Linked DNA regions of Homo sapiens. The protein of the gene in region 3 interacts with the protein of the main gene of each other region in a biochemical or structural test. Each region holds a gene or a part of one and is shown on either strand. Other genes may lie near its edges. The genes, in order: TNFAIP3, KEAP1, IKBKB and MAP3K1.

Evidence for each region.
Region 1: of the proteins of IKBKB (region 3) and TNFAIP3, one has a biochemical effect on the other in vitro, tested with the Homo sapiens proteins (2 studies listed by BioGRID and IntAct).
Region 2: the proteins of IKBKB (region 3) and KEAP1 form a complex in vitro, tested with the Homo sapiens proteins (one study listed by BioGRID).
Region 4: of the proteins of IKBKB (region 3) and MAP3K1, one has a biochemical effect on the other in vitro, tested with the Homo sapiens proteins (3 studies listed by BioGRID and IntAct).

The regions. Positions count from the first base shown.
Region 1 is NC_000006.12:137,862,695-137,870,357, forward strand, and holds the start of TNFAIP3 (tumor necrosis factor alpha-induced protein 3), read left to right. Parts: upstream 1-4,564; 5' UTR 4,565-4,848; exon of another isoform or gene 4,849-5,547; intron 5,548-7,663. UniProt on the Homo sapiens protein: Ubiquitin-editing enzyme that contains both ubiquitin ligase and deubiquitinase activities.
Region 2 is NC_000019.10:10,486,294-10,493,472, forward strand, and holds part of KEAP1 (kelch-like ECH-associated protein 1), read right to left. Parts: intron 5,970-7,179; coding exon 5,284-5,969; intron 3,561-5,283; coding exon 3,355-3,560; intron 3,076-3,354; coding exon 2,899-3,075; intron 526-2,898; coding exon 359-525; 3' UTR 1-358. UniProt on the Homo sapiens protein: Substrate-specific adapter of a BCR (BTB-CUL3-RBX1) E3 ubiquitin ligase complex that regulates the response to oxidative stress by targeting NFE2L2/NRF2 for ubiquitination.
Region 3 is NC_000008.11:42,266,728-42,274,458, reverse strand, and holds the start of IKBKB (inhibitor of nuclear factor kappa-B kinase subunit beta), read right to left. Parts: upstream 3,158-7,731; 5' UTR 2,990-3,157; intron 2,902-2,989; exon of another isoform or gene 2,736-2,901; coding exon of another isoform or gene 2,726-2,735; intron 2,377-2,725; coding exon of another isoform or gene 2,359-2,376; coding exon 2,254-2,358; intron 1-2,253.
Region 4 is NC_000005.10:56,881,441-56,888,619, reverse strand, and holds part of MAP3K1 (mitogen-activated protein kinase kinase kinase 1), read right to left. Parts: intron 7,051-7,179; coding exon 5,754-7,050; intron 5,094-5,753; coding exon 4,941-5,093; intron 3,957-4,940; coding exon 3,794-3,956; intron 2,689-3,793; coding exon 2,557-2,688; intron 1,243-2,556; coding exon 1,100-1,242; intron 395-1,099; coding exon 263-394; intron 1-262. UniProt on the Homo sapiens protein: Component of a protein kinase signal transduction cascade. Activates the ERK and JNK kinase pathways by phosphorylation of MAP2K1 and MAP2K4. May phosphorylate the MAPK8/JNK1 kinase.

The DNA.
Region 1 (7,663 bases), on a different chromosome or scaffold from region 3:
GCTAAAGTGCTTGGAATTTCCACCATTAAGCTCTAGGAAGTTCTGTAAGAACATTTTATCAAGAAATATAACACAGTAACACATCACAATCTGTTTGAAAAATGAGCATGATTTATCTTACCAGCCAGTCCCGGGAAACAGGTCTCTGAAAGAATGGAAGCCTTTCAAATTCTTTTTTTATGGAGATGGCTGGCAGCCAAAGGAGCAGGATTATAGAGACCCCAAACTAGACTGAAGGGATTGAGGGACAAATGAGAAAGGGGAATGTCAAGGCAAATTTTCACAATGGCTTGCACTATTCCAAGTAACAGGAACTAATTTATCTCAGAAACACCGGGCTTACTGCTAAAACCAACACTGCTTTCTAGCTCGTTCCTAATAACACCCATTTCTGGGCTTTCTAACATCCTATTTGGTCATTAATAGCAGCCTTCACAGAAACATAAATGAAACTAAGAATTGAATATTTATATTTATGATGTAAAATAAAATTACTTTCCCAAGTGTTTCAGCCAAGTGTTGACAGGAAATAAAACAGAATTCACAGGGATAGTGGATTTTCTGACAAGTTTGAGATGTCAGCATCGCACGCTTTCAGGCAAAGTGCAACAGAAGGAACTGTACTTGTCATTACACCAACTGCCTCCTTCCCAGTGGAGGGTCTTTGATCCTGGTACTATGACTCACTGGGTCACTAAGGACTTCAGTTGTCCCTCCACCATGGTGGGTCTTGGGTTTCTCCATTCAGTCCAGATAACACATGTAAAGGATCTGAGGTCCCTAGATAAGAAGCAACATTCAGTAGAATTTGGCATTCATAGGATGATGAAATTTATGACATCATTATCCCAGTTCTCACGGTTATAATCCACAGAAAGCTTCTCTTTATTCTCAGAACTAGCCCTTGTAGTGGCCTTGAATGTGCAAACGTTACCCTTTAGTAATGTTTGAGGCAGAATTTGAAAATCTGAAACATGATTCAAAGCTACCCTACAATAACTAAGCTGCCATAGTTACCTAAGGCTGCTTCCCAATATGTTTTCTATGAATCTGCCTTTCCAATAGAGCACAGTGCAGGGAAAAGGGGAGGGGGCAATTGTACAAAAGACACAAAAGGTCCAGTTTTAGTTTGGCCCATGACTGCCATGCCCTGGAATTCTGTACAGTCTCAGAAAGAGAGTGTCACTGATTATTAAAAATACATAATTTCTTCTTTTTTATTTTTTTAATTTTTAGAAACATGGGTCTTACTATGTTGCCCAGGATAGACTCAAACTCCCGGACTCAAAGGACCCTTCCCTCTCAGCCTCCCGAGTAGCTGGGACTGCAGACGCATGCTAATTAACAATCAACAACCAGGGGCCAGGCGCGGTGGCTCACGCCTGTAATCCCAGCACTTTGGGAGGCCAAGGCGGGTGGATCACGAGGTCAGGAGAATCGAGACCATCCTGGCTAACACGGCGAAACCCCGTCTCTACTAAAAATACAAAAAATTAGCCGGGCGTAGTGGCGGGCGCCTGTAGTCCCAGCTACTCGGGAGGCTGAGGCAGGAGAATGGCGTGAACCCGGGAGGCGGAGCTTGCAGTGAGCTGAGATCGCGCCACTGCACTCCAGCCTGGGCGACAGAGCAAGACGACGTCTCAAAAAAAAAAAAAAGAATCAACAACCAATCAACTGTTGCTGATTCTTGATTAAGAAAGGCTCATGAAATATGTTTGAGCTCAGCAGGGTCTCCTCTCACTTGTCACACGTGGTGCTCTCTTTCATCAGGTTCTTCCTGCTCCCCCCATCTGGGCAAGCACATCTTTTTTACTGCATGGTACAGGGATACAGGCTGCAAGCACAGTCTCACGGGAACCGTTTAATTCCAAGAGGTCATGTGTGCTCATTTTACATAGTTCATGACCCATAAACCCCAGCATTGGTGTCAAAATGGCACGTAACTTAGGAACTCTCCAAAAATATTTCACATAATCAGAATTCCTTTTTCATCTAATAAGGAGACATATTTTTTCTCCTAAGTGTCTACTAAATGTTAATAAATATTCTCTTCTTTAAAGAGTTCTGTCCATCTTGACAAGGCCTATAGCTCAAATTAAATCTCCTTCAAGGCTTTTCAGCATTCTATATCTCTTTGGTTTCAACTTATTCAACAAATCTCCCCAAATTGTATTTCTCCTTTTTTTCATAAGAAGGCATTCCATCTATACTCTCTCCTTCTCTTCTTTTCTTTCCTTCTGATTCACCAAGAAAATTGTCATTGGTCTTGTCCATGTGTTACATAATAGAAGGGGAAAAGGCAAGGGTACAGCCCAACACAGCGCTGATTTAGAAGGTGGAAAGGACAGTAAAGACCGCCTGGTGGTGGGAGTGGCAATTCACAAGCCCAGCAGTAGAATCATGGAAAGTGGAGTTCGAACATAATCCAGGGCTATAGACCACTCCTGCATCTGACTGCTATTACCTTGTCACAAATCCTGGCAGGCAAGATGACAAAGCAGTTACATCAGGACAGTTGGCAGTGGCAGGTATGAACGTGGCCCCTCAGGCTTGTCACTCCTCTTTACTGCACTCCCAGTTCATGACACCAGACAGCAAGACATGAGCCAGATAGGGGCAGTGGAAGCTGCAGGAGGATTGAAGTCATGGAGCCAGAGATGAGAGGAAACAGGCCAACTCTGTTTACAAAGGAGCACCAGCAGGAGAGTGGTGTGAGGATTAACATTCCATGCAGGGTCTTTCAGATACATGATCTTCTTCTGCCAGCTCAACTGAAACCCAGGAGGTTTCCTGAAGGTGAAACCAAGACCCTTCTACCTCTGAAGCCGCATTCTGTCTAAGGTCCGTGTTTGGCTGTTTTGAGAGGCTGGGAGACAGGACACCAAAAGAGTACCTGTCTCACAGGATCTTTCCTGAGAGGAATGGTCTAGTAAGACTGGTCATTATGGGCTTTGGAGTAACACAGGCTTAATGCCACTGGCGACTCTGCCCCTTTTGGTTGTGGAAACTGGGCAAATGCCTCAAGCTTCTTAACCTTCATATAAAAAGCATATATAAGCATATAGCAAGTACTTGATAAATGTCATTTTAGACCCTGTCATTTCTGCTAGCCCTGGACTCCAGCAAGGTCCATTTACAATGGATAGCTGACTATCCATTGTTTGAATGTTGATAGCACATTTGTGAACAAGAAGAGAGGACAAATAACAAGAGGTTTGGAACTGGAAGAAATTCCAGCCATCGGTTTTAAAAGACGAGGACCAGTCTTCAGAGAGGCCACTAGTGACACTCTGCTCCAAACTTCTTTTTGCCAAAAAAGTGCCACCCTCCATCCAGCCCCCACCCCCATCTCTGCAAGTCCTTACTGGCGAGAGGAGGATACTTTTCTAATTAAAAACCTGTGATATATGGCCTGACAAGTATTCTTAAATGTAATTAAGGGGACCATAGTACAGAATATTTCCATCCGGTTCTAGTTTAGCCAATCTAGTAAATGATCCAAAGGGTCCCGTGCTTAGAGGGCAGTAAGACAGTAAAAACGCCCTAAGACTCCTCCCTGCACAGCACCTGCACCCCCACTGCCCAGGGGGCTGCATCCATCTCCACATGACTCACCCTCCCTGTGCAACGCATGGGGGTAGGGAGGGAAGCGCCAGTATTATCAGCCATCAGCACCCTGGGGTGAACTGATTATCAGGACAACTAAAAACACACCTAATAAAGCCTTGGAGACACATGGCAAGCACCGTGATGGACTAGAAGCGATTTCTAAGCTGAAATGCTGCTTTGAATGCAATGTCAGCTGGATGCTTGGTGAGCAGAAATAGACAAGGGGAAATGGAGCAAGCGCGGCATAGGGGTGAGTGTTGTTCTGATTCCTAAGTTTACCTAAGACTGGGGCCACGGGGTCGGGTGTCCCCTGGGACCTACGTCTCATGCAGCCTGGGGTCCAGAGCTGGCAGGAACAATGGAGATGGGGACCAAAGGCTGTCACCGCTGCTTTTTCTCGAAATGCCCGCCCGGGTCCTGTCTGGGGCTCCCGCCTACGCGCTCATCACGTGCACAGCCCAAACTTTTCAGAGCCGGCCCGAGGCCTGCGGGCCCGGGCGCCAGGGTGGTTTTTAGGGTTTTCTTTCTTTCTTATTTCCCTTCTTCTTCTCCACAGTTGATGATTTTCTGCAGAAAAACAACTGCGAAAAAGAACCTATTTCATTTCCAGTTCCCATCACCGCGATTTCCACATGGATGTGACGTGACCCCAGCTTCCGAAATGCCCAGGTGACTCACGCGGGGACACCCCGGGGCGGGGCGAGGGAGTTTCTCCGGGCGCCTGCAGGGACCGGGCGGGGCGGGGCAGCGGGGCGGGGCAGGGAAAGGGGGCGGGGCGGGGCCCGCAGGCCCGGTCGGGCGGAGGCCGCGCGCGCCCCTCGCCCCCTGCGCCCTCTGGCGGCCGGCTGGACGCACTTCGCAGCCCGACCCAGAGAGTCACGTGACTTTGGAAAGTCCCGTGGAAATCCCCGGGCCTACAACCCGCATACAACTGAAACGGGGCAAAGCAGACTGCGCAGTCTGCAGTCTTCGTGGCGGGCCAAGCGAGCTTGGAGCCCGCGGGGGCGGAGCGGTGAGAGCGGCCGCCAAGAGAGATCACACCCCCAGCCGACCCTGCCAGCGAGCGAGCCCGACCCCAGGCGTCCATGGAGCGTCGCCTCCGCCCGGTCCCTGCCCCGACCCCCGCCTGCGGCGCGCTCCTGCCTTGACCAGGACTTGGGACTTTGCGAAAGGATCGCGGGGCCCGGAGAGGTAACCGCCGCGCCTCCCGGAGAGGTAACCGCCGCGCCTCCCGGAGAGGTAACCGCCGCGCCTCCCCGTGCCGTCTGCCTCGGGCTCACCGCAGTCAAGGGCTGCGGGTGCATGTTGGGCAGCGACCCCCGGGCTGGCACCGTCTACCTGGCGTTGGTTTTGCAGCGCTCCTGGACTGGGAGTTTGTTGGACGTTTCTGTCTGGGTTTTGAAGTGCTGGGAGTTGAGGTCACTGCTGCAGAGGTTGGAGTGACAGCCCTGGATACCTCCAGCCAGCTGTTCCTTTCAGATAATGCACGGAACTTAAGCTGCAGCTGACTGGTGAAGAGGCGCCCCTCGGGCCCTCCGATCGGGTGGTCGTTGGCGCTTTGCTCCTTTCGTGTCTTTTTTGGAGCCAAGCGTTGCATGCTCATGGCCACGTAGACCTTGCAGAAGCGCTGCGGCTTTTTCCCAAATTGTGCAGGACCAGCCCGACGGGGCGTAGGGTACCGCAGTGGCCGCCAGCCCGGCGGAGGTGGGGGGCTTCAGTCCCAGAGACAGCTTCCCAGACGCTCACGGGTCCTTGCAGGGGGCTGGGGTCCTGGCGCGGGGTTCAGCTTTTCCAGTAGCAGCAGTGTAAGAGAAGTATGCATGTAGACGTGGGTCGCTGGCCCCTGCTCCAGCCCCTACCCCACGGTTAGACTGTCTTTGTCAGCTGGAGTCGTCCCACATCCTGCCACCTGGCCTCTCAGAAAAGCAGTGGCATTAAGTAAGGAAGGAGCTTAACTCTTTTTGAGCCCGCTTTGTTTTCGGTTCTCCTCGCCTCAGATCTTCTTGCCTTGGAAAGCCAGTCTGGTCAAGTGTCTCAGGGTAGCATTTTGGCAGAACCATTGTTAATTAAAGGGACTTCTGGACCGCAACCTTAATGTACCAGATTATTGAGCAGCCAATGAATGCTTCATTCTCATTGTTTAAGGTGCTGCTTTGATTTTTTTTTCAATTCTTTGTACTATTTTTGATTTTTTGGAGAGGCACATCCCCAAATTTGGATGAGGTATTTGTTGATAAATAATTCATCAATTTCCACAATGCAGACAAAAATGTCTGCCCAGAGTGGAAAAATAAAACAAGGGGGAGAAGAGTTTGAGTAACGGAGAAGTTCTGTGGAATCCTAGTGACAAAAGTTGAGAAACTACCTTTAAATAAGACAGTGAGGTAACAAATGTTAAAAAAAAAAAAGTTAAGGGTAATATTGCATTGTTTGCCACTTATAACGTATCTGAAACATTTGTTCTTTAATCTTAAGCGTAGAGTGGTCCAAGACCTGGAAATCTGGGCAGTGGGTTTTGATTTCTAAGGAGGCAGTTTTACAGGCTGTGCAAGGCTAACCCTACCAATGAGATCACACTGGCGTATCCGATATTGACATTTGCATGTCTTGCCTATGGTTTACAGCTCTCACTATTTTAGATCTTTGGTGAAAAATCTTTAGATTCAGAAGAGAAAAATAAAAGAGTCAGGCAAGCAAAAAGAGATAACACCTCATTTGTTTAAAATCTTCCTACTGCCCATCTCTTTCCATCTGATTGTGGCAGGCACTGTAGCCACAGGTTTGGTGTTGTGGGATTGCAAGGGGCAGGTATTGAAAGACCTGGCTCCTAGGCAAAACTTTGCCCCTGAATGGCTGTGGGATCTGAGCAGTACCTGTAACTCCATTGCCTTAGCTGCAGACTAAGGTGGTAGTGTAATTTCAGGGAAGGGAATAAGGTCATCTTTGACTTTTAGTCCCATCATCAAGCATGGTGATTGGCCTTCAGTAGGTGGTCAGGTAGTGCTTGTTGGGTGGATGGGTGGATGGATGGATAGATGGATGGATGGATGGATGGATGGATGGATGGATGGATGGACGGACGGACGGACGGACGGATAGATGATATTGTGAAAGAGACTTTTGCTGTGCCACAAAGGAAAGGTATATGTGTTATTTTTATCCTGCTATGATTTTGCCCAATTCCACCTGTAGAGGACGTCTGACATCAAAAGAGAGCACCATCTGATCCAGAGAATGACTCCCACTATGCCTTTCCCAGCAATCAGATTAAGAATCCCAATCTAAAACTATCACCAGAAAACTCCTCAGGAGAAACCATGGGTCATCTAGTCCAACCTCTCTCCTTTGAGTGGGCCACAAGAATTATCTCAACACCTTATCAATGGTGTTGAGAGTCTAGACCCACACAGAAGTAGCTACCCTAAAATCTAGGTTTCTTCTCCTCCCTCTTCCATAGGTTTAACATTTTTATTAACTGGAAAGTTGCCCTGGCAAATAAGATGTTGCAGGAATGGAATTAACAATCACTGTGAAATTTCCTAGGGAATGTCTTTGTGCTCTGAAAACTTCTTCATCTTCTTGGAAATTAGGAAGTGTGGCCAGACACCCTACTAAGGGCTAGTAAATCACAGCTGGCTTTTTACAGTGTTCCACACTGGAGAGATCCTACATCATGTTAATTTGCATCATCCTGCGCTGTTGGCATGGGTTGTAGATGCTGGTCTTTGCCACCTTTCCTCCTTCATTTGCCAGAGTGGCCTCCTGGTGGAAACTTCTTTCCTTGTCTACTTCTAGATTTTCATTCCTTCTACTAGTTGATTATGCTTAAAGATTTCAGGGTGAAAAGCCAGGCAGACTTGCCTCTGTGTTGGTACCTGGAGGGTGATGATAAAATTTCATTGGCAGTTGAGTTAAAATGATTGAGCTCCAATATCTGTTCTTAGAAGTATAGAATTTATTGTTCTATTATTATTTTGCGGTTTTTCATTTTTTGTTTTCGTAGAGACCTAGGTCTCACCGTGTTGCCCAGGCTAGTCTCAAACTCCTGAGCTTA
Region 2 (7,179 bases), on a different chromosome or scaffold from region 3:
GGCCCCCTCCCAGGTATCCAAGAATAAATCACATGGTGACAGCTGCCGGCATGGGTGAGTGGGACCCAGGCCTATTACCCGGCCAGAGGGTTTGGGGGCCTCTCTCCTGGAAGCCTGCTCTTTCCACACCCCCTTTCCCAGCCAGGCTGTCTTGGACACTCCCGGGGCTCCGCTGAGGGGCACATGATTCCCGCTTTGGACTTCTTTTGAGATGTCATTTTAACACTGAGGCATCCTGGCCTCCCTTCCCGGAAGATGGGTTATTTGCAGTGCTGTCTTTTCTTTTAGTCCCGGTTTTTGTACAAAAACAATGATACTCCCCATTGGACTGTATTTTTGCCCAAGAAACAAAAGTGCCTCAACAGGTACAGTTCTGCTGGTCAATCTGCTTCCGGCAGGGCTCCATGGTGACAGCCACGCCCACCCCACTCCGGCCCGATGTCATTCGGGTCACCTCGCTCCAGGTGTCTGTATCTGGGTCGTAACACTCCACACTGTCCAGGAACGTGTGACCATCATAGCCTCCTGCGGGAAGAACAGAAGGGATGGTCACCACCTGTCACACCACATCCAAGAGCAGGGGACAGAAAGAGAGAGATGCAGCTGTGAGATGCAAAAGCAGGCCGGGCGTGGTGGCTCACGCCTATAATCCTAGCACTTTGCAGGGCTGAGGCAGGAGGATTGCTTGAGGCCAGGAGTTCGAAGCCAGCCTGGGCAACATAGCAAAACCTTAGTCTCTTACTAAAAAAAAAAAAAAAAAAAAAAAATGGCCAGGCTTGGTAGCTCACGCCTATAATCCCAGCACTTTGGGAGACTGAGGTGGGTGGATCACTTGAGTCCAGGAGTTTGAGACCAGCCTGGGCAACATGGTGAAGCCCCATCTCTACAAAAAAACATAAAAATTTAGCCAGGCTTGGTGGTGCGCGCCTGTAGTCCTAGCTATTAGGGAGGCTGAGGTGGGGAGGATCAGTTGAGTCTGGGAGGCAGAGGTTGCAGTGAGCAGAGGCTGCACCACTGTACTCTAGCCTAGGCAACAGAGTGAGACCCTATCTCAAAATAAATAAATAAAAATAGGAAAATAGGCCACTCGCGGTGGCTCATGCCTGCAATCCCAGCACTTTGGGAGGCCGAGGCGGGCAGATCACCTGAGATCAGGAGTTCGAGGCCAGCCTCGCCAACAGAGTGAAACCCTGTATCTACTAAAAATACAAAATTAGATGCGATTGGTGATGCACGCCTGTAATCTCAGCTACCTGGGAGACTGAGGTAGGAGAATCGCTTGAACCCGGGAGGCGGAGGTTGCAGTGAGCTGAGATTGTGCCACTGCACTCCAGCCTGGTGACAGAGCAAGACTCCACCTCAAAATAAATAAATAAATAAATAAACAAAAAATAAAAAAATAAAAATAAAATAAAATAAAGGCCGGGCACAGTGGCTCATGCCTGTAATCCCAGGACTTTCGGAGGCTGAGGCAGGTGGATCACCTGAGGTCAGGAGTTCAAGACCAGCCTGGCTAACATTGTGAAACCCCGTCTCTACTAAAAATCAAAATTGGCCGGGCATGGTGGCTCACACCTGTAATCCCATCCCTCTGGGAGGCCGAGGCGGGCAGATCACCTGAGGTCAGGAGTTCGAGACCAGCCTGACCAACATGGAGAAAACCCTTCTCTACTAAAAATACAAAATTAGCCGGGCGTGGTGGCGCATGCCTGTAACCTCAGCTACTCGGGAGGCTGAGGGAGGAAAATCGCTTGAACCTGCCAGGTGGAGGTTGCAGTGAGCCGAGATCGAGCCATTGCACTCCAGCATGGGCAACGAAAGTGAAACTCCATCTCAAAAAAAAATTAGCTAGGCGTGGTGGCACGTGCCTGTATTCCCAGCTACTCAGGAGGCTGAGACAGGAGAATCACTTGAACCTGGGAAGCAGAGGTTGCAGTGAGCCAAGATTGCGCCATTGCACTCCAGCCTGGGCAACATGAGCAAAACTCTGTCTCAAAAAAATAAAATAAAATAAAATAAAAATAAACAAAAACATTAAGCTGGGCGCGGTGGCTCACACCTGTAATCCCAGCACTTTGGGAGGCTGAGGTGGGCAGATCACCTGAGGTCAGGCGTTCAAGACCAGCCTGACCAACATGGTGAAACCCCATCTCTACTAAAATACAAAAATTAGCTGGGCATAGTGGCAGGCGCCTGTAATCTCAGCTACTTGGGAGGCTGATGGGGGAGAATCACTTGAAACCAGGAGGCGGAGGTTGCAGTGAGCTGAGATCGTGCCATTGCACTCCAGCCTGGCAACAGACTGAGACTCTGTCTCAAAAAACAAAACAAAACAAAACAAAACAAAAAACAAAACAGGCCGGGCGCGGTGGCTCATGCCTCTAATCCTAGCACTTTGGGAGGCCGAGGCAGGTGGATCACGAGGTCAGGAGTTCGAGACCATCCTGGCCAACATGGTGAAACCCTGTCTCTACTAAAATACAAAAAATTAGCCTGGTGTGGTGGCATGTGCCTGTAGTCGCAGCTACTCAGGAGGCTGAGACAGGAGAATCGCTTGAACCCAGGAGGTGGAGGTTGCAGTGAGCTGAGATCATGCCATTGCACTCCAGCCTGGGCAACACTGTGAGACACCATCTCAAAAGAAAAAAAACATTAGCCGGGTGTGGTGGTGCGCGCCTGTGGTCCCTGCTACTTGGGAGGCTGAGGCAGGAGGATGGCTGGAGCCCAGGCTGTTGAGGCTCCAGCGAGCTGTGATCACACCACTGCACTCCAGCTGGGCAACAGAGCGAGACCTTGTTTCTAAAAAAAAAAAAAAAAAAAAAAAAAAGGAAAGCAAAAGCAAAAGCAGTCCACAAAAGATGGGCTAGTCAGGACTCTTCCCCGCCCCCAGGGCCTCACCAAGGACGTAGATTCTCCCCTGGTGGACAGTGATCCCCAGGGCACTTCGCCGGTGCTTCATGGGGGCTACGAAAGTCCACGTCTCTGTTTCCACATCGTAGCGCTCCACGCTGTTCAGCTGGTCCTGACCATCATAGCCCCCAGCAGCATAGATACAGTTGTGCAGGACGCAGACGCCTAAAGGGCACCATGCAGAGAAGGTGACTCTGGGGGTCTGGCTTTGGGAACCCCAGCCATCACCTCCTTGAGGGAGACCTTTCCTCTCTCCTCTCCCTTCTCACCCTCAGAAATGAAGCGGGGAGAGAGAGAAGCTTGGACTCTATCAGAATCCAGGGCTTCTGTGGTTACCCCAGCATGAGGGTTGCAACAGGGGGTCTCTCCCAGGCCTGGCTCAGTTTCACCCCAGGATGGTAGGGGGTGTTCCTGGGTGCTCCCCTCCCTACCGTCCCCACCCACCTGCCCCGCTTCGGATGGTGTTCATTGCTGTGATCATTCGCCACTCGTTCCTCTCTGGGTAGTAACACTCAGCTGAATTAAGGCGGTTTGTCCCGTCAAAGCCCCCCACGGCATAAAGGAGACGATTGAGGACAGCCACGCCCACCCCGATCCTTCGTGTCAGCATTGGGGCCACCAAGTGCCACTCATCCCGCTCTGGCTCATACCTGCAAGGGCGTAAGAAAAATGGGGACAATGGCCATTATAGCTGACCTTCGTGGAATACTTAAGGGCCAGATACTCTTTTTTTTCCTTTTTTTTTTCCCCCTTAAAGAGACAGGTTCATCCGGCGCGATGGCTCATGCCTGTAATCCCAGCACTTTGGGAGGCCGAGGAGGGCGGATCACCTGAGCTCAGGAGTTTGAGACCAGCCTGGCCAACATGGTAAAAACCTGTCTCTACTAAAAGTACAAAAATTAGCTGGGTGTGATGGCAGATGCCTGTAATCCCAGCTACTCGGGAGGCTGAGGCGAGATAATCACTTGAACCTGGGAGGCGGAGGTTGCAGCGAGCTGAGATCATGCCACTGCACTCCAACCTGGGCAACAGAGCGAGACTCCATCTCAAAAAAAAAAAAAGAAAAAAAGAGACAGGGTCTTGCTCCGTTGTCCAGGCTGGAGTGCAGTGGTGCAATCACTGAAGCTTCAAACTTTTTTTTTTTTTTTTTTTTTGAGATGGAGTGCAATGGTGAGAGCATGGCTCACTGCAACCTCCACCTCCTGGGTTCAAGCAGTTATTCAGCCTCAGCCTCACAAGTAGCTGGGATAACAGGCACCCACCACCACGCCCGGCTAATTTTTGTATTTTTAGTAGAAATTGGGTTTCGCCATGTTGGCCAGGCTGGTCTCAAACACCTGACCTCAAGTGATCTGCCTGCCTCAGCTTTCCAAAGGGCTGGGATTATAGGCATGAGCCACCACACCCAGCCTGCAGCTATCAACTCTTGGGCTCAAGGAACCCTCCTGGCTCAGCCTCCTGAGTAGCTGGGACTACAGGTGCACACCACCGTGCCCACCTCCACTCGAACTCTAGTGCTTGCAGTTGTTCTCCAAGGATTGAGGTATCAGCAACTCCATTTTCCAAATGACAAAACTGAGCCTCCTAGCCATCAATTGCTCAAGTTCAAAAACACATCTGATAAACCCCTAGTGGCTCAGCCAGATCCCCCACTTCACAGATAACAAGATAACATCTCAGAAAGGAGAAATCACACATTCAGCATCACTCTTTGATGCTCAAAGAGTCCTTTAGGTCCGGCACAGTGGCTCACACCTGTAATCGCAGCACTTTGGGAGGTTGAGGTGGGAGAATCCCTTGAGGACAGGAGTTCAAGACCAGCCTGGCCAACATGGTGAAACCCCATCTCTACAAAAAATACAAAAATTAACCAGGCGTGGTGGTGGGTACTTGTAGTCCCAGCTACCCCAGGGTCTGAGGCAGGAGAATCACTTGAACCTGGGAGGCGAGGTTGCAGTGACCCAAGATGCACTCCAGCCTGGGCAACAGAGCAAGAGAGACAGGGTCTTACTCTATTGCCCAGGCTAGTCTCCTGGACTCAAGCAATCCTCCCACCTCAGCCTCCCAAAGTCCCTGATTATAGGTATGGGCCACAGTGCCTAGCCCAACAATTTCAAACTGATGGAACATTTTCCAACTCCGCACAAAGGAACCATATGGGTTTGTGACAGTCCCCTAAGCATTTCCCAGCCCCAGGCACAGAATCAAAGGTCACTGACTAGAACTCTCCAAGGAGCTTAGCTTCATCCTGAGGCCTCCACTCCCTGAAGACAGGAAGAGGAAACAGCCTCAGGAAGAATACCCGGATCTCAGTGTCTTGGGACTTGCCAGGAGCAGGACCCTCCGAGCCCACCCCCAGGCCCTGCCACTCACCTCTCCACACTGTTGTGGTGGATGCAGCCGTGGGAGCCGCCGACGGCATAGATGTGGCCATCGATGACCCCCACCCCGATGCGGTTACGGGGCACGCTCATGGGGGCGCAGGGCGACCACTGATTGGTCATGGGGTTGTAACAGTCCAGGGCGCTGGAGTCGGTGTTGCCGTCGGGCGAGTTGTTCCTGCCGCCCACGGCGTACAACAGCCCGCCCACCACGCAGCCGGCCAGGCCGCTCCGCGGCACCTGCAGGTCCGCCAACCGGAGCCAGGTGCCGTCACTGGGGTTGTAAGCCTCCAGGTAGCTGAGCGACTGTCGGAAGTAGCCGCCCGCGGTGTAGATCAGGCGGCCCACCTTGGGCGCCCGGCAGGGCATCACCTGCGTGGGCTTGTGCAGGGTGAGCTCCTCGAAGATCTTGACCAGGTAGTCCTTGCAGCGGGAGTCGGACTGCAGGATCTCGCACTTCTGCAGCTGCATCTGCAGGAAGTTCGGCGTCAACGAGTGGCAGCGCACGGCCCGCAGCAGCGCCTGGACGTAGAACCGTCGCTGTTCGCAGTCGTACTTGACCCAGTTGATGCAGGCGTGGAAGACCTCGGACTCGCAGCGCACGTTCAGGTCGTCCCGGCTGATGAGGGTCACCAGTTGGCAGTGGGACAGGTTGAAGAACTCCTCTTGCTTGGCCACCTGCAGAGGGCGACAGTGGGACGGGCTGACTCTCCAGTCACCCCCACACCTCACCAAGCAGGACCGGGACAAGTAACTTATCACTGCCGCTGACAGTCTCAGCTTCCTTATCTGCTAAATGGGGATTCAAATAATAGGAACCGCGTACATTGTGATGACTAAATGAGTTAATCCTGCCGGGCGCGGTGGCTCACGCCTGTAATGCCAGCACTTTGGGAGGCCGAGGCTGGCGGATCACGAGGTCAGGAGTTGAGAGACAAGCCTGGCCAATATGGTGAAACCCCATCTCTACTAAAAATACAAAAATTACCCGGGTGTGGTGGCACACGCCTCTAGTCCCAGCTACTCGGGAGGCTGAAGCAGAAGAATCGCTTGAACCCGGGAGGCGGGAGGCGGAGGTTGCAGTGAGCCGATATTGCGCCACTGCACTCCAGCCTGGGCGACAGAGCAAGACTCTGTCTCAAAGAAAAAAAAAAAAGAGTTAATACTATGTGCCAAGTATGTCATCAGGACTCAGGAAAATGGGCAAAGACTCAGTAGATCGTGTACCCTGGGGTATCATTTGGCTTTGGTTTTTGAGACAGAGTCTCACTCTGTCACCCAGGCTGGAGTGCAGTGGCATGATCTAGGCTCACTGCAACCTCTGCCTCCCAGGTTCAAGCAATTCTCCTGCCTCAGCCTCTCAAGTAGCTGACATTACAGGCACCTACCACCATGCCCCGTTAATTTTTATTTTATTTTATTTTATTTTGATATGGATTCTTACTCTGTTGCCCAAGCTGGAGTGCAGTGGTGTGATCTTGCTTCACTGCAACCTCCGCCACCCAGGTTCAAGTGATTCTCCTGCCTCAGCCTCCCAAGTAGCTAGGATTACAGGAGTGTGCCTCCAGAGCAGCTAATTTTTTTTTTTTTTTTGGAGACAGTCTTGCTCTGTCGCCCAGGCTGGAGTGCAGTGGAGCGATCTCCGCTTGCTGCAACCTCCGCCTCCTGGGTTCACGCCATTCTCCTGCCTCAGCCTCCCGATTAGCTGGGACTACAGGCGCCCGCGACCACGCCCAGCTAAGTTTTTTTGTATTTTTTTAGTAGAGATGGGGTTTCACCGTGTTAGCCAGGATGGTCTCGATCTCCTGACCTTGTGATCCACCCGCCTTAGCCTCCCAAAGTGCTGGGATTACAGGCGTGAGCCACCGCGCCCGGCCATTTTTTTGTA
Region 3 (7,731 bases):
GGGGAGTTGTGGAGGGAAATAGGGAGAGACTGGTTAATGGGTACAAAATTACGGTTAGGTGGAATAAGTTACAGTATTCTAAAGAACAACAGGGTGACTACAGTGAATAAAACTTTATTGTATATTTCAGGCCGGACGTAGTGGCTCACGCTTGTAATCCAAGCACTTTGGGTGGCTGAGGTGGGCAGATCACCTGAGGTCAGGAGTTTGAGACCGGCATGGCCTACATGGTGAAACCCCATTTCTACTAAAAATACAAAAATTAGCTGGCATGGTGGTGCACACCTGTAATTCCAGGTACTCAGGAGGCTGAGGCAGGAGAATCACTTGAACTCAAGAGGCGGAGGTTGCAGTGAGCCAAGATCACACCACTGCACTCCAGCCTGGGCAACAGTGCGAGACTCTGTCTCCGGAAAAAAAAAAATATTGTATATTTCAAAATAGCCAGAAGAAAGAATTTTGACTGTTTCCAACAAAAAGGATACGTGTTTCAAGTGATGAACACGCCAATTACCCCGATTTGATCATTACACATTATGTATCAAAATATCACACTGTACCCCATAAATATGTACAATTATTATGTGTCAATTAAAAATAAAAACAGGCCAGGTTCAATGACTCATGGCTGTAATCCCAGCACTTTGAGAGGCCAAGGCAGGAAGATCACTTGAGGCCAAGAGTTCTAGACGAGCCTGGACAACATTGTGAGACCACCATCACTACAAAAAATAAAAAAAAAACCTCAGCTGAGGCCAGGTCCCATGGCTCAGGCCTGTAATCCAAACATTTTGGGAGGCAAAGACGGGAAGACTGCTTGAGGATGAGAGTTTGAGACAAGCCTGGGCAACATAGCAAGACCCCATCTCTACAAAATTTAAAAAAATGTTAATTATTTGAAATATGGATTTTCATCATCATTCTAAATGAATTCTCACTTTCATGTGGATCTGCTTATTTTTTGCCGTGCAGTATCGCAAGCAATACTGGGAAGACATCATAATTAGCAAATATTTTAAATATATATATATATATATATTTTTTGAGACAGGGTCTCATTCTGTCACCCAGGCTGGAATGCAGTGACACTATCTCGGCTCACTGCAACCTCTGCCTCCTGGGTTCAAGCGATTCTCCTGCCTCAGCCTCCTGAGTAGCTGAAGTTACAGGCATGCACCACCACACCAGCTAATTTTGTATTTTTAGTAGAGATGAGGTTTCACCATGTTGGCCAGGCTGGTCTCAAACTCCTGACCTCAAGTGATCCTCCTGCCTCGGCCTCCCAAAGTGCTGGGATTACAGGTGTAAGCCACTGCACCCGACATTTAAAATAATTTTTAAAAAATGGTTTTGAAACAAGGTCTCACTCTGTCACCTAGGCTAGAGTGCAGTGGCACAATCATAGCTCACTACAGCCTCAAACTCCTGGACAAGCAATCCTCCCACATCAGCCTCCAATGTAGTGGGACTACAGGTACGCACCAAGGCTGCCTAAGGTTTTTTTTTTTTTTTTTTTTTTGAGACGGAGTCTCACTCTGTTACCCAGGCTGGAGTGCAGTAGCGCAATCTTGGCTCACTGCAACCTCCGCCTCATGGGTTCAAGCGATTCTCCTGCCTCAGCCTCCCAAGTAGCTGGGGACTACAGGCACGTGCCACCAAGCCTGGCTAATTCTTTGTATTTTTAGTAGAGATGGGGTTTCACAGTGTTAGCCAGGATGGTCTCCATCTCCTGACTGCGTGATCCGCCTGCCTCAGCCTCCCAAAGTGCTGAGATTACAGGTATAAGCCACCACGCCCAGCTGGCTGCCTAATTTTTAAACCTTTTTTGTAGAGACGAGGTCTTGCTATGTTGCCCAGGCTGCTCTTGAACTACTGGCCTCAAGGAATTAAAATATTTTAAATTATTTATTTAGTCTCATCCTTTAAATTTTCCTATTTCTATATGTTTTATAACATATAATATCAGTATATATTAGTACATGATATTCTACTGTTACCATATATATATAATAGAGACTAAGAGCTTAACTTTATTTTACTATTTATTTAGGTGACATAGTCAATAAAGCATGGAGACCACTAACCTGGAGTCAGCTCAGAAGTCCTGAAGCCCTCTTCCCAGTCCCCCTATTCACTGTCCCAAGATGACCAAAGCCAAAGGTGAGCCCTTGGCCCAGCAGGATCAGAGAAAGTGGAGGCAGTGAGGAGGGGGCCTGGCTCCCCGCCCCTCCCCAAGCTGCACAGAGGGCCTACCTGATTGTGCCATCGGATGACATTTCCAAATCCCCCTGTCCCAAGGCGCTCTTTCATTTCCCAGGCCCCACATGTCTGCGTTGTCAGGGAAGGTGACCAGCTCATACTGATGTCGTGCTAACTCTATAAGCAATTTGGGATGGGGAAAAAAGGTTAGGATTAAGAAAAAAATGGAGCTCAAAGGGATGGAGAAGGCAAGAGATACCACTGCTCTTGAATGGGAGAGAAGAAAAATACAACTGGTTTTTTATTTTGTAAAGAAACCAATGTGTTTGGTTGGTCCAAACTTTGTGGCAAACTTTTGTCCCTCTCACCCTCCCCCATCCGGTTGCTGTGGCATCAGGCAAGGAAGAAAGTCACCGAGGGAGGCGATGCCCACGCCCTTGCCCTAGCGAGGGGATCCCCAGCTGACTCCACCAGGGGCGCCCGGGCCTGCCCGCCTTCTGCCCGAGGTGGCAGGGGCAGAACCTACTTCTGAGCATCGCCGAGGTCACGTGTTTCTTTACAATGTTCCCATAAATCGCAGGTTCCCCTCAAAGCCACCCACCCCCAAGAAGCCACCCCAGGGAGAGCTGTTTCTCCCGGCTTCCCGAACTCCAACCCGCACAAGTGAAACGCTCCCCAGTCCGCAAGCTGCGACTTCCCAGCGGCACAGAGGGGTCTTCCGGGCCTTGCAGGCAGCGGGGCGGCGGGGCCTGCAGGTGGCACCCGGGCCGCACCCACGAGGGGGACTCACCTGTCGGCAGGGACGCGGGGCAGGGGGCGGGCTCCCCGGGGCGGGGAAGGCGGGGCTGGGGCGGCCAAACCCGGGGCTATGACACCCCCCTGAAAACATTAAAATGCGGGAATCTTAACGCGGGCAGCGCGGCGCGACTTCCTCAAACACTTCCTGCTCTGACGTCACGGAGCACGTTGGCCGCGGCCGCTCTTAAAGAGGCCGCTCCCGGCGCGAGGCAGACCAGGTCCGGATGCTGCGAGTGCTGCGCCTGTCCCGGGACCCTCGACCGGGCGACTCCCCCGGGGCGGGGGTGGCGTGTGGTCTCTAGACAACTGAGGGAAAGTAGACAGACCGTGCTCACCGATTTAAAAGAACAGCCCTGAAATGACCCCCGTTACACCCTGTTCTCTTTAGACAAGTTACTTCCACCTGGAGCGGTTTCTGGGCCCGGGTATGGGGATTTCTTCACCCGGCCCCCTAGGCTTTCACCTCGGTGGAATTTCCCGCGCCCCCGCTGGGATGATTTAGGGACTGTTGGCTAGAACTGCCCTTGCCTACCGCCCTACTGCGGGCGCTCCCCTGTCTGGGGGGTGCTTGGCTGGGTGTGGAGAAGGATCAATCACAGCTGACTCCTCAGAGGTGACAGCCCCTGCCCCCTTAAAAACAAGAAAAGACCTAGCAGTGTGAAGCCAAACTGCACCCCCAGCCCCGGTGACATGAGGAAACCGTGAGGCGCTCAGCCTGAGGTTCATCGTTCATCTCCTTCCTGCTTGGAATCAGAATGTCCTCACTGCTGAGTTTCTCCGTTTTATGGGATTACATTAGTGGACAAAGGAGGTGTGTGTGTGTGTTGCTATATTTTATTCAAGCAGAAAAAAACTACCAAAGGAACCTGAAGATGATAATAATAGCTCACATCTATAGAGTGCTTACACAGTGCAGGGCTCTGTTCTAAATCTCTGTACTTAGATTTCCTTATTCAATCCTCAGGGCAACCCTGTAAATTGGAAAATACTGCATCATCATCATCATTATTATTATTATCTCGCTCTGTCACCCAGGCTGGAGTGCAGTGGTGTGATCACAGCTCAGTGCAACCTCCAACTCCTGGGCTCAAGTGATTCTCCTGACTACAGGTGCGCGGCCGCCATACCTGGTGGCGGGGTCTCACTCACTGTGTTGCCCAGGCTGGTCTCCAACTCCTGGGCTCAAGGGATCCACCCGCCTGGGCTTCCCAAAGTGTTGAGATTACAGGCTGTGAGCCACTGCACCTGGTCTGCATTATTATTATTTCCAAGGTACATGGCTGCTACGTAGATGAGCTGATACTCAAACCCTAGCAACTGGTTCCCGGGTTCTTAATCCGTGGCTAAAAGTAGCATGTTAAGAAGTTCAGAAGGAGGCAAACTGGATTTTGAATCCAGATACTGCTGTTGACTACCTCTGAGGCACGGGGGCTGGTTACTTAAACACTGTGAGAACCTATTTCCTCTTTTAAAATTTAGGCAATATTAGGTTGAATTGCATTTAATTGTCATTTTTTGGAAATTGAAAACAGCCAAAACATCAGTAACAAAGATCAGCAGTTTCATCTGCTTCATTGTAATAGCAGGGGGACAGGCGGGCTCATAGAAAGTCATAGAAAGGAGGCCACCCCAGAGTTGTTGTGAGGGACAAATGAGGTATTGATAGCAGCAGTGCCTGACAGCCCTGGGGTTGAAGTTAACTCAGGGACAGATCTCAACCCAAACATAGGGGTCAATGGTGTCCAGGGCTGTGCTAGGCACGCTGGCTGCTCGGTTTCTCCCCTCTCCCCTCTTCCCTCTCCTTTCTCTTTTTCTTTCTCTCTCTCTCTCTTTTCCTTCCTTCCTTCCCCCTCCCCTCTCCTCCCCTCCCCTCCACTCCCCTCCCCTTCCCTTCCCTTCCCGGCTACTTGGTTTCTTTCTTTTCCTTCTTTTCCTTCCTTCCTATCTCTCCTCCTTCCTTCCTTCTTTCCTTCTTTCCTTTCCTTTTCCTCCCCTCCCCTCCCCTCCCCTCCCCTCCCCTCGCTTCCCCTCCCCTTCCCTTCCCAGCTGCTAGCTTTCTTTTTTTTCTTTCCTTTCTTTCTTCCTTTCCTTTCCTTTCTTCCTTTCCTTTCCTTTTCTTTCCTTTTCTTTCTTTTTTCTTTCTTGACAGGGCCTTTCTCTATCGCCCACTTTGGAGTATAGTGGCAGGATCACGGCTCACTGCAGTCTTGACCTCCTGGGTTCAAGGGGTCCTCCCGCCTCAGCCTCCCCACTAGCTGAGATTACAGGCACGTGCCACCATGACCAGCTAATTTTTAAATTTTATTTTGTTGACATGGGGGTCTCACTATGTTGCTCAGACTTGGCTTGAACTCCTGGCCTCAAAGCAATCCTCCCGCCTTGGCCTCCCTAAGTGCTGGGATTACAGGTGTGAGCCACCGCTTCTGGCCTGGTATTTCTTGATTACTCCCAGCTAAATGGCAAGCTCAGCCTCAAGGCCAGAAGCAACAGGAACATGAGTAAATAGTTGTAACACACGTAGAATAGTGACTGCATTGTCTAAGTGCAATATAAGTGTTTGCTTAATAAGTAAATTTTTTAAATAAAATATTTATTGGCCAGGTGAGGTGGCTCATGCCTGTAATCCCAGCACTTTGGGAGGCCAAGGTAGGCAGATCACTTGAGGTCAGGAATTTGAGACCAGCCTGGCCAACATGGTGAAACCACGTCTCTACGAAAAATACAAAAATTAGCTGGGCGTGGTGGCAGGTGCCTATAATCCCAGCTACTTGGGAGGCTGAGGCAGGAGAATCACTTGAACCCAGGAGCTGGAGGTTGCAGTGAGTGGAGATCGCACCAGTGCACTACAACGTGGGCGACAGAGCGAGACTCCATCTCAAAAAAAAAAATTTGGCCGGGTGTGGTGGCTCACCCCTGTAATCTCAGCACTTTGGAAGGCCGAGGCAGGCAGATCACTTGAGGTCAGGAGTTCAAGACTAGCCTGGCCAACATAGTGAAACCCCGTCTCTACTAAAAATACAAAAATTAGGCCAGGCACAGTGGCTTACACCTGTAATGCCAGCACTTTGGGAGGCCAAGGCGGGCAGATCACGAGGTCAGGAGATCAAGACCATCCTGGCCAATATGGTGAAACGCCATCTCTACTAAAAATACAAAAAAATTAGCTGGGCGTGGTGGCACGTGCCTGTAATCCAAGCTACTCGGGAGGCTGAGGCAGGAGAATCGCTTGAACCCAGGAGGCAGAGGTTGCAGTGAGCCGAGATCGTGCCATTGCACTCCAGCCTGGGCGACAAGAGCAAAACTCCATCTAAAAAAAAAAAAAAAAAAAAAAATTATTGAGCACCTATATGTGCTGGGCACTGTGGAGAGTCCATTTCCAGTACAATGTCATAAAAGGTTTCTCTTTAATCCTGTCATCTCTGAAAAACACTGTCCTGAGAAACTTACCAAGATGTCCGCTAATATGCCAAAAGTTTACTCTGCGCTCCTGTAATTTGAATCCTCATTTTGCTCAGCTCAAAATAACTTGGCTTTCAACTGAACATAAATCTCTCTGATAAGGTCACGTATTACTAGGCTTTTTTTTTCTTCAATTAATCATGGACCAGGAAGGGGCCTCTGGGTTTTATCATATTCCAAGATATTTATTATCTTAAGCTCAATTTTCTATCCAGATAAGACATGTTTAGCTATCTCTGCCTGCATCTGGTTTCTGTCCTGCTCTGGAGATATGAGCAGACTGTTTACAAAAGATATTTTCAGATTCAGCAGAAAAATGTCCCCTTTTCTTCCTGCTTTGAGGCTGAGTGTGCTTTTTAGCTGTGCTATAGGGAAATCAAGAAATACTGACCAGCCAGAGTGCCTAGCTCAGCCCAGGGCATTACTGACCCAGGGGATCCAAGCAATGGAATGAGATCTCATCAGAGGCACTTAGAATCTTACTGGGTTTTTAAGACCCACAGGGAGCCATGAAGTAAGGACAGACAAAGGCCAGGCAATATAAAATCACACACGGATTTGTTCTGCAGTAATTAGTACCACAGTACAGTACCGTTATAGGAAAGGGGTCCCGATCCAGACCCCAAGAGAGGGTTCTTGGATCTCGCGCAAGAAAGAATTCAGGGCGAGTCAGTAAAGTGAAAGCAAGTTTATTAAGAAAGTAGGGGCCAGGCATGGTGGCTCACTCCTGTAATCCCAGCACTTTGGGAGGCAGGTGGATCACGAGGTCAGGAGATGGAGACCATCCTGGCTAACACGGTGAAACCCCGTCTCTACTAAAAATACAAAAAATTAGCCAGGCATGGTGGCGGGCGCCTGTAGTCCCAGCTACTCAGGAGGCTGAGGCAGGAGAATGGTGTGAACCCAGGAGGTGGATGGATCTTGCAGTGAGCCAAGATCGCGCCAGTGTACTCCAACCTGGGCGACAGAGCGAGACTCCACCTCAAAAAAAAAAAAAACAAAAAAAAAACAAACAAAAAAAGAAGGTAAAGGAATAACAGAACGGCTACTCCTTAGACAGAGCAGCCCCCGAGGGCTACTGGTTGCCCATTTTTATGTTTATTTATTTATGCTAAACAAGGGGTGGGTTATTCATGCCTCCCTTTTTTAGACCAAATAGGGTAACTTCCTGATGTTGCCATGGCATTTGTAAACTGTCATGGTGCTGGTGGGAGTATAACAGTGAGGACGACCAGATGTCACTCTCGTGGCCATCTTGGTTTTGGTGGGTTAGAG
Region 4 (7,179 bases), on a different chromosome or scaffold from region 3:
CTAGCATCACCAGTGTATCATAGCACATATTGCTAGCTCAGACAAAAATCAAAATTCAAAGTATGGTTTTTACCAAATTTGTATTGCTTTTGCACCATCTTAAAGTAAAAAACTTGTATATCAAATCCTCTCTGAATAAATATACAGACTATTTATTTACCTTCATGCTAGATTGTTAGGGAGAACCCATCAAAATTTGCCTCCTGCCAAATTCTGCTGTACTCCTTTTAGCACAAAGAAGTAATTTTTATCTCACAATTACCTTAAATATCAAAGCAAGATGATTGGAGTGTTTTTCTGCATTCCATGGTGGTTTTGCACAAGCCATTTCTATAATAGCACAGCCAACACTCCATACATCACAGCTCCTTCCATACTGTTGACCTCTTAGTACCTAAAATAAATCAGAGTTAATTTGGAAATAGGACTCATTTGAAAAAGAGAAGGCCATTTTGTAGTTATAGATTCTACTTCCTTACTTTAGGGAGAAAACTGGTACAAACAGGAATTCTGTGGACTACCTAATATCTAATTTATTTCATTAATGAGCTTAATTTTCCAGGTAGCACAAAAATATTTTGGAGAATTGTGAGATTCTGAAGCAGAGTCCCATCACAGAATTTTGCTCTTAGCAAACTATGTGGCAAGAGGACAACAGATCATTACTACATATGAACATGAAGAATTATGAACACGACAGAAGAAGCTGAGTCAGAAGAACAATGCTTAAACTCCTTCCACTACAGACAGGAGCTGCCTCTGTATGCTCATCTCCTTTTAGAATAGAGAGAGAATATTTTTAAAAATTTCTTATGTGCACTTTGAGTTTATTACAAAACAACTGCTATAAATTACCCCAGAATTCTTTATTAGTAACAGCCGTTAAGTAAATCTATTAAAACCTGTTTTTTGAATATTGCCAAGGCAAAGAAAGGTCGAGAATAAGGGTCTGAAAGATATTATTAAAACCGTATTTTAAGGGCCACGGACTTCTAGTTGGTAAGTACATACTGGATACCACTGCAAGATAATTTAGTATAATGCTGTTACACAGAATTCCAAAATATTTTCTGTCATCACACTCAAAGATGCTTCTCACCTCAGGTGCCATAAATGCAATTGTCCCCAGTAATTGTCCCTGAAACTCTCCTGCACCAGTTCCTTTTGATGCCAACCTGGCTGCAGCTCCAAAATCTGCAATTCTTAGTCTCTGACCAGTGCTGTCAATTAGCAAATTGGCACCTGTCAACAAACACAGCAAATGACCTTGTATGTTAAAAACAAAAATAAGGACAGATAAAAGCCCAGTACAATACTAATGAACTAGGACAATGACAAAAGAAAGAAGTGAACTACATGTCAGAGGTGCAAACAGTTATTCTCTTTTCCTTTCACTTCATTCTTGCTAAAGGCACACAGCTCTCTCTAGCGTACGCTAAATTCATAATTAGAGCTTAATTTAAAAAGTTATAAAATTACTTCAACACATTATGTCAAATACTAGCTAAAAAGACTAATGACAGAAAACCAAATTTGCTCTTGAGAAAAATAAACTGAGGCCAGGTACGGTGGCTGACGCCTGTAATCTCAGCACTGTGGGAGGCTGAGGCAAGCGGGTCGCTTGAGCCCAGGAGTTCAAGACCAGCCTGGGGGCAACATGGCAAAACCCCATCTCTACAAAAAATATAAAAAATTAGCCAGGCATGGTGGTGCACACCTGTTGTCCTAGCTACTTGGGAGGCTGAGGTGGGAGGATCACTTGAGCCCAGGAAATGAGTTACAGTGTGCCAAGTTTGCAACACTACACTCCAGCCTGAGTGACAGAGAACCTGTCTCCAAAAAAAAGAAAAGGATAAGGAAAATAATGGGACCTACAAAGGATTTGAAGGAATTTTTCTTAAAAGAAGTTGATGATATCCCAATATCCCAATTATTCAAAATAAAACCAGGAAAAGGAACTTTCTGGGAGTCAGCGTATCATGAGGCCAAGACAGGGAATCTGGAGACCTGTGTTGTATACTTTCTGCCATTAACTAGCAATAAAACTGTAGAAAAGGCACAGCCTCTCTTGTATTCAATGTACTTTTCTATTAAACGAGGAAGGCAGATTAAATGATCCCTAAGGCTCATTTCAGTTCTAATATTCTGAATTACTCAGAGAAAAAAATCCCACTGTTAGAAACTATCAACAAAGGTCCATTTTTTTGTTCTTCTTTGAGACAGAGTCTCACTCTGTCACCCAGGCTAGAGTGCAGTGGTGTGATCTCAGCTCACTTCAACCTCTGCCTTCCGGGTTCAAGCAATTCTCCTGTCTCAGCCTCCCAAATAGCCAGGATTACAGGCATGCGCCACCTTACCCTGTTAATTTTTGTATTTTTAGTAGAGACAGGGTTTCACCATGTTGGCCTGGCTGGTCTCGAGCTCCTGACCTCAAGTGATCCACCTGCCTTCACCTCCCAAAGTACTGGGATTACAGGTGTGAGCCACTGTGCCTGGCCCCAAATTTTAAAATTAATTTTTTTATTGTCACTAGATAATAATTAGAAGAATTCTCACCTTTGACATCTCTGTGAATGATTTGGTTTTCATGGAGATACGAAAGGCCACGGAGTAACTGTTCAGTGTAGTTAATAACTACTGATTCTTTGAAGGCTCCATATTTACTCAGCAAATGAGCCACCGATCCCCCTATAAGACAATAGAAATAATTATCATAAACTTAAGACAGAATTAAAAGTATTTATTACACTTTGGTTTCTAAAGTTTTCACTGCATGAACTCACATTCACATCTGAAACAGAAGAAAAACATTTCAAAACTAACATATTCCTGTATCATCTCAAAAACCTACTAATTAGGAGACATTTTCACAGAACCCACAGGGAAACCAGTTTATTGGAGAGTCAAGATTTCAGAAAGCTGTAAAAGTTAACAATTTCGGATTAAACTATTTCTGAAATGTACAATTCAATTCTCTGTCTTCTCAAAATACACAAAACAACTTTATTAATGACTAAAGTAAACAATGTTAACATATTATGTAGTAAAAGGTGGAAAGAATGGGAGGAGGAACAGAAAACCCAGAGTTAGGCGTCATATTCTACCATTTACTAGCTCTGACCTGGAACATGTCTCAAATTTAGCCGCTTTTAAAAGTGTTTATAGTAGTCAACCTATCTACTGTAGTGTAAATCTTTATTAAGACCAACCAACAGATAACATACTTAAGAACTGACTGGTAAAGAGAAATGCACTCTTAAATACACACACAAATCTAAGAAGTTAAACCAAACAATCTGTTCATCACATCAGGTCATTAATTTTATTGTATACATTGTATAATACAAAATAAAACTCAGTCTTCATTTATTTCAGCAGATGACAAGGTTCAACTTTATGCTTCAGTGCTAGTTTACTTGTAGTAAGTTTTCAAGTTATATGTTAATTTTGTTTGTATATTGTTATGTTAAAACACTTCCTCATCTGTCCAATTTATCATGGCTACCTGGAAATATACATATCTTATACATATCAAGTATTAAAAACAACAATGCTACACAATCATTTAAAAACACACTGGAAAAATTTAAAAGGTAGAGGTAGTCAATATTTCATTTATAGTAAATGAAATACAAAACGAAGTATTTGTGGTTCATACTAATATATTGGGGTGATTTGTTTTTAGAAACCCAAACTATTTGATAGAAATAAATTTTAATTAAACTGGTTTTTCCTAAATTGCAGAAAGTTAAATCCACGTACTACTATTTTGTAATTTAAAACATTAACATACCTGCCATCCATTCAATGAAGAGATTGTAATTGCTCTTCTCACACGTGGCTCCCAACATCCTAATGATGTTTGGATGATTCAGATGGCTCATCATTCTTATCTCTTCTCTTAGTGCTTCTACTACTTCTTCTTGCTCAGAAGATGTGTTTCTGACATAAGTCACCTGTTTCAAATAAACACGTTCACAAAGTTTTGCATATTTTCACTAGCAATCTGATCTAAAATGAACAAATGCAAACTAGCACTTTATTAGCAACAGATGGCATTTATGCTTATGGATGCAATGTACTTTAAACAAACCCAAGTCAAACTCTTTTAAACACTAAGAATCTAGCTTAAGCAGCAGTAAACATCAGAAAAATGACAAAAATATTGGGATATAGTCAATATTCCAATAGTCTCAGAGTAAAGATGAGAAAAGCCCAAATATGGGAGAAGAATCAACATGATTTAAAAATGAAAGTTTAATAATTTTCCTATCCTGATTAAGTATGCTCGTTATAATAAAAAGTAAACCACTGAAACCCCAAGATGGCACCGCACAAGTACACTGTTGAAAGAAGTACCTGAAAACCACCTCTACTACCTACAAAAAGCAAAACCAAAAAAACCTTTGTAAGGCCCATCTTGATATTGTAGTCTTACAATAATCATACTTCAACTTTTATTTATTTTTTTTTGAGACAGTCTTGCTCTGTTGCTCAGGCTGGAGTACAGTGGTGCGATCTCGGCTCACTGCAACCTCTACCTCCTGAGTTCAAGCAATTCTTCTGTCTCAGCCTCCTGAGTAGCTGGGACTACAGGTGCCTACCACCCTGCCCGGCCGATTTTTGTATTTTTAGTAGAGGTAGGGTTTCACCATGCTGGCCAGGCTGGTCTTGAACTCCTGGCCTCAAATGATCCAACCACCTTGGCCTCCCAAAGTGCTGGGATTACAGGTGTGAGCCACCACGCGTGGCCTCAACTTTTAACAATAACAGAATTCATGATGTTTCTGGTGCTTTAGAAACATCTACTTTGAAACTAAGTTTCTCAAAGTTTAAAGAACTAAAGTACACACACGTGGACATATCCTTTATTCTTTTTACTGAACATGCTTCATTTTGTGATTTGAGTCATTTCATTTATATGCTCACTAGATATTTACCTGTTTAACAGCCATTAAAGTTCCAGTTCCCACATCTTGAGCCTGATAACAAGAAGAAAATGCTCCAAGGCCTATCTGTTGACCTTTCAGCCATTCAGTGTCTTCTCTATACGGTTGTTTTGCTTTGGTATGTCCTGGTAGAGTCTCTGGTGTCTACATATTAAACGAAAGCAATCTTTTTACTGTTAAAGGAGTAAGATTTTGTGAAATTAGTCTGCAAGATATTATTCTTATTCAGTCTGGCTTCCCAAACCACCTATAAATGTGACCTCTGAATGGAAGGTATTTGTGACCGACAGCAAATGCAAAAGTAATCACCATTATACAATTAACCGGAAATGCCCATAGGCAAGAATTATTGCTGTTTAAACAGTACAAACATTATTGTTGTATAAGTAATAATTTTATGTGGAAAACTCTGCTTCTGAATGTTAGAAGCAGCATTTCTGAATTAGGTTTATTTTAGTATGGTCCAAGGAAGCTCTCTGTGAGACAGTGTCTTGCTCTGTCATTCAGGCTAGAGTACAATGGTGTAATCACAGCTCACTGTAGCCTCAAACTCCCAGGTTCAAGTGACCCTCCCCACCTCAGCTTCCTGAGTAGCTGGGACCCCAGGTGTACACTATCATGCCTGGCTAATTTTTAAAATTTTTTGTAGAGACAGGGTCTTGCTTTGTTGACCAGGCTAGTTTCGAACTCCTGTGCTCAAGCAATCCTTCGGCCTCAGCCTCCCCAAGTGCTGGAATTCCAGGTATGAGTCACTGTGCCCAGCCCCAAGGAAGTTTTCTAACCTCTTAAAGAATCTATACTTACATCCTGTTGAATAATGATGATATCTTCTCCATTTTCAACCTGCAGCTGAGGAACTATGGGGAGGGCATCCTGAGACGCTGACATTGCCATGGCAATTGCTAAAGCTTCTTCTTCTTCAGCTTCCATCTTCTCTTTGCACTTTTGATTATGATTCACATCATCTTTGTAGGTATCATCATTTTCAGCCTTTTCAGGAGACAGGACAGCAACTTCTGACTTAAAAGTTACTGTTGTATCACTTGAAGGCATAGATGCTTCAAGAAGGTCCTCAATACTGGAGTTGAGCTCTGTATTGACATCTAATCTGCATTTCTCCTCTACTGGGGTGAACACTGTCTCGTCACTGGGTATAACAGCATTACTACTATTGCTGCTACAGCCAAAGCTGTCATCACATTTGGAACTACTGTTCAGATCAAGTGTCATGCTATTTTTTGAGGGATCTCCCTGTTTACTTGTATTACCTGGGGTAGGTCTAGATGGCTTTGGCCTGTGTATGTTACTGGAGGGCAAGGGTCTTGACTGAGTAAAGACTGGGGAAAGTTTATCTGAGTCTTTGTTTTCAGGACAGTTTCTGTGGAATTGTAGAGAAAACTTGCGCTGTGTTTGAGGAGATGCAGAAGGTATTCTGCAGGGAATGAATCCCTGAAGTCTATGCTTAGAGACATCTGTTGCAGTGCCAGCTGGTACAGATGGGGTAGAAGAAGAAGGGGTTGACAAGGCTGGAAACATTAATTGGGAATGATGAGATAAAGGAGAGGAGTTCAAACACTGACTGTGGGGTCTGCCTTTTGTTTGAACCATTGGCTTTGGTTGCTCTGTTGTTGTTGTTGTTGTTGTTGTTGAACTAGAAGGTCCTACTGAAATGCTGGCCAGTCTCTCAGAAATGTCCTCTGAACTGGCACTCAATTTTGTAGCACATAATCCTTTTCCAGTTTTCTCTAAATGGACTGTGCACTCAGGGGAACTGTTCTCTGTGGTTTCCAGATAGTTGTTGGGAACAGATGCCTGCAAGAAGCTGTCCTGTTGACCATCCAAAGTGTCTTCTACGCCCAACTGGATGGCTTCGGCAATTTCCACCTCATCTGCAATAGCCATCAAACGGCGACGCATCCTGGTGAAGTGAGTGGAACTGGAAACACTCAGCATTTCTAACAGTTTTGAAAACACATGGGGTACTGTAGTAACCATTCTTGCAGAACTCAAGTAGATCCTTCTGGAAAGTTTGCCAACCATTGAGTGGGAATTATCAATGGACTGCAAAGCAAAGGTTAAGAGGGACAGCAGCTTCTTATACCTGAAAGAAAAAAACATTCATTACCATATAAGTTCCAATTACTGAAAAATACATGGAAACTTAAAAAATGGTAGTAATTTACAGCATGTATACTTCAAAAACCATTTCAGCATAAAGTATCTATGAATT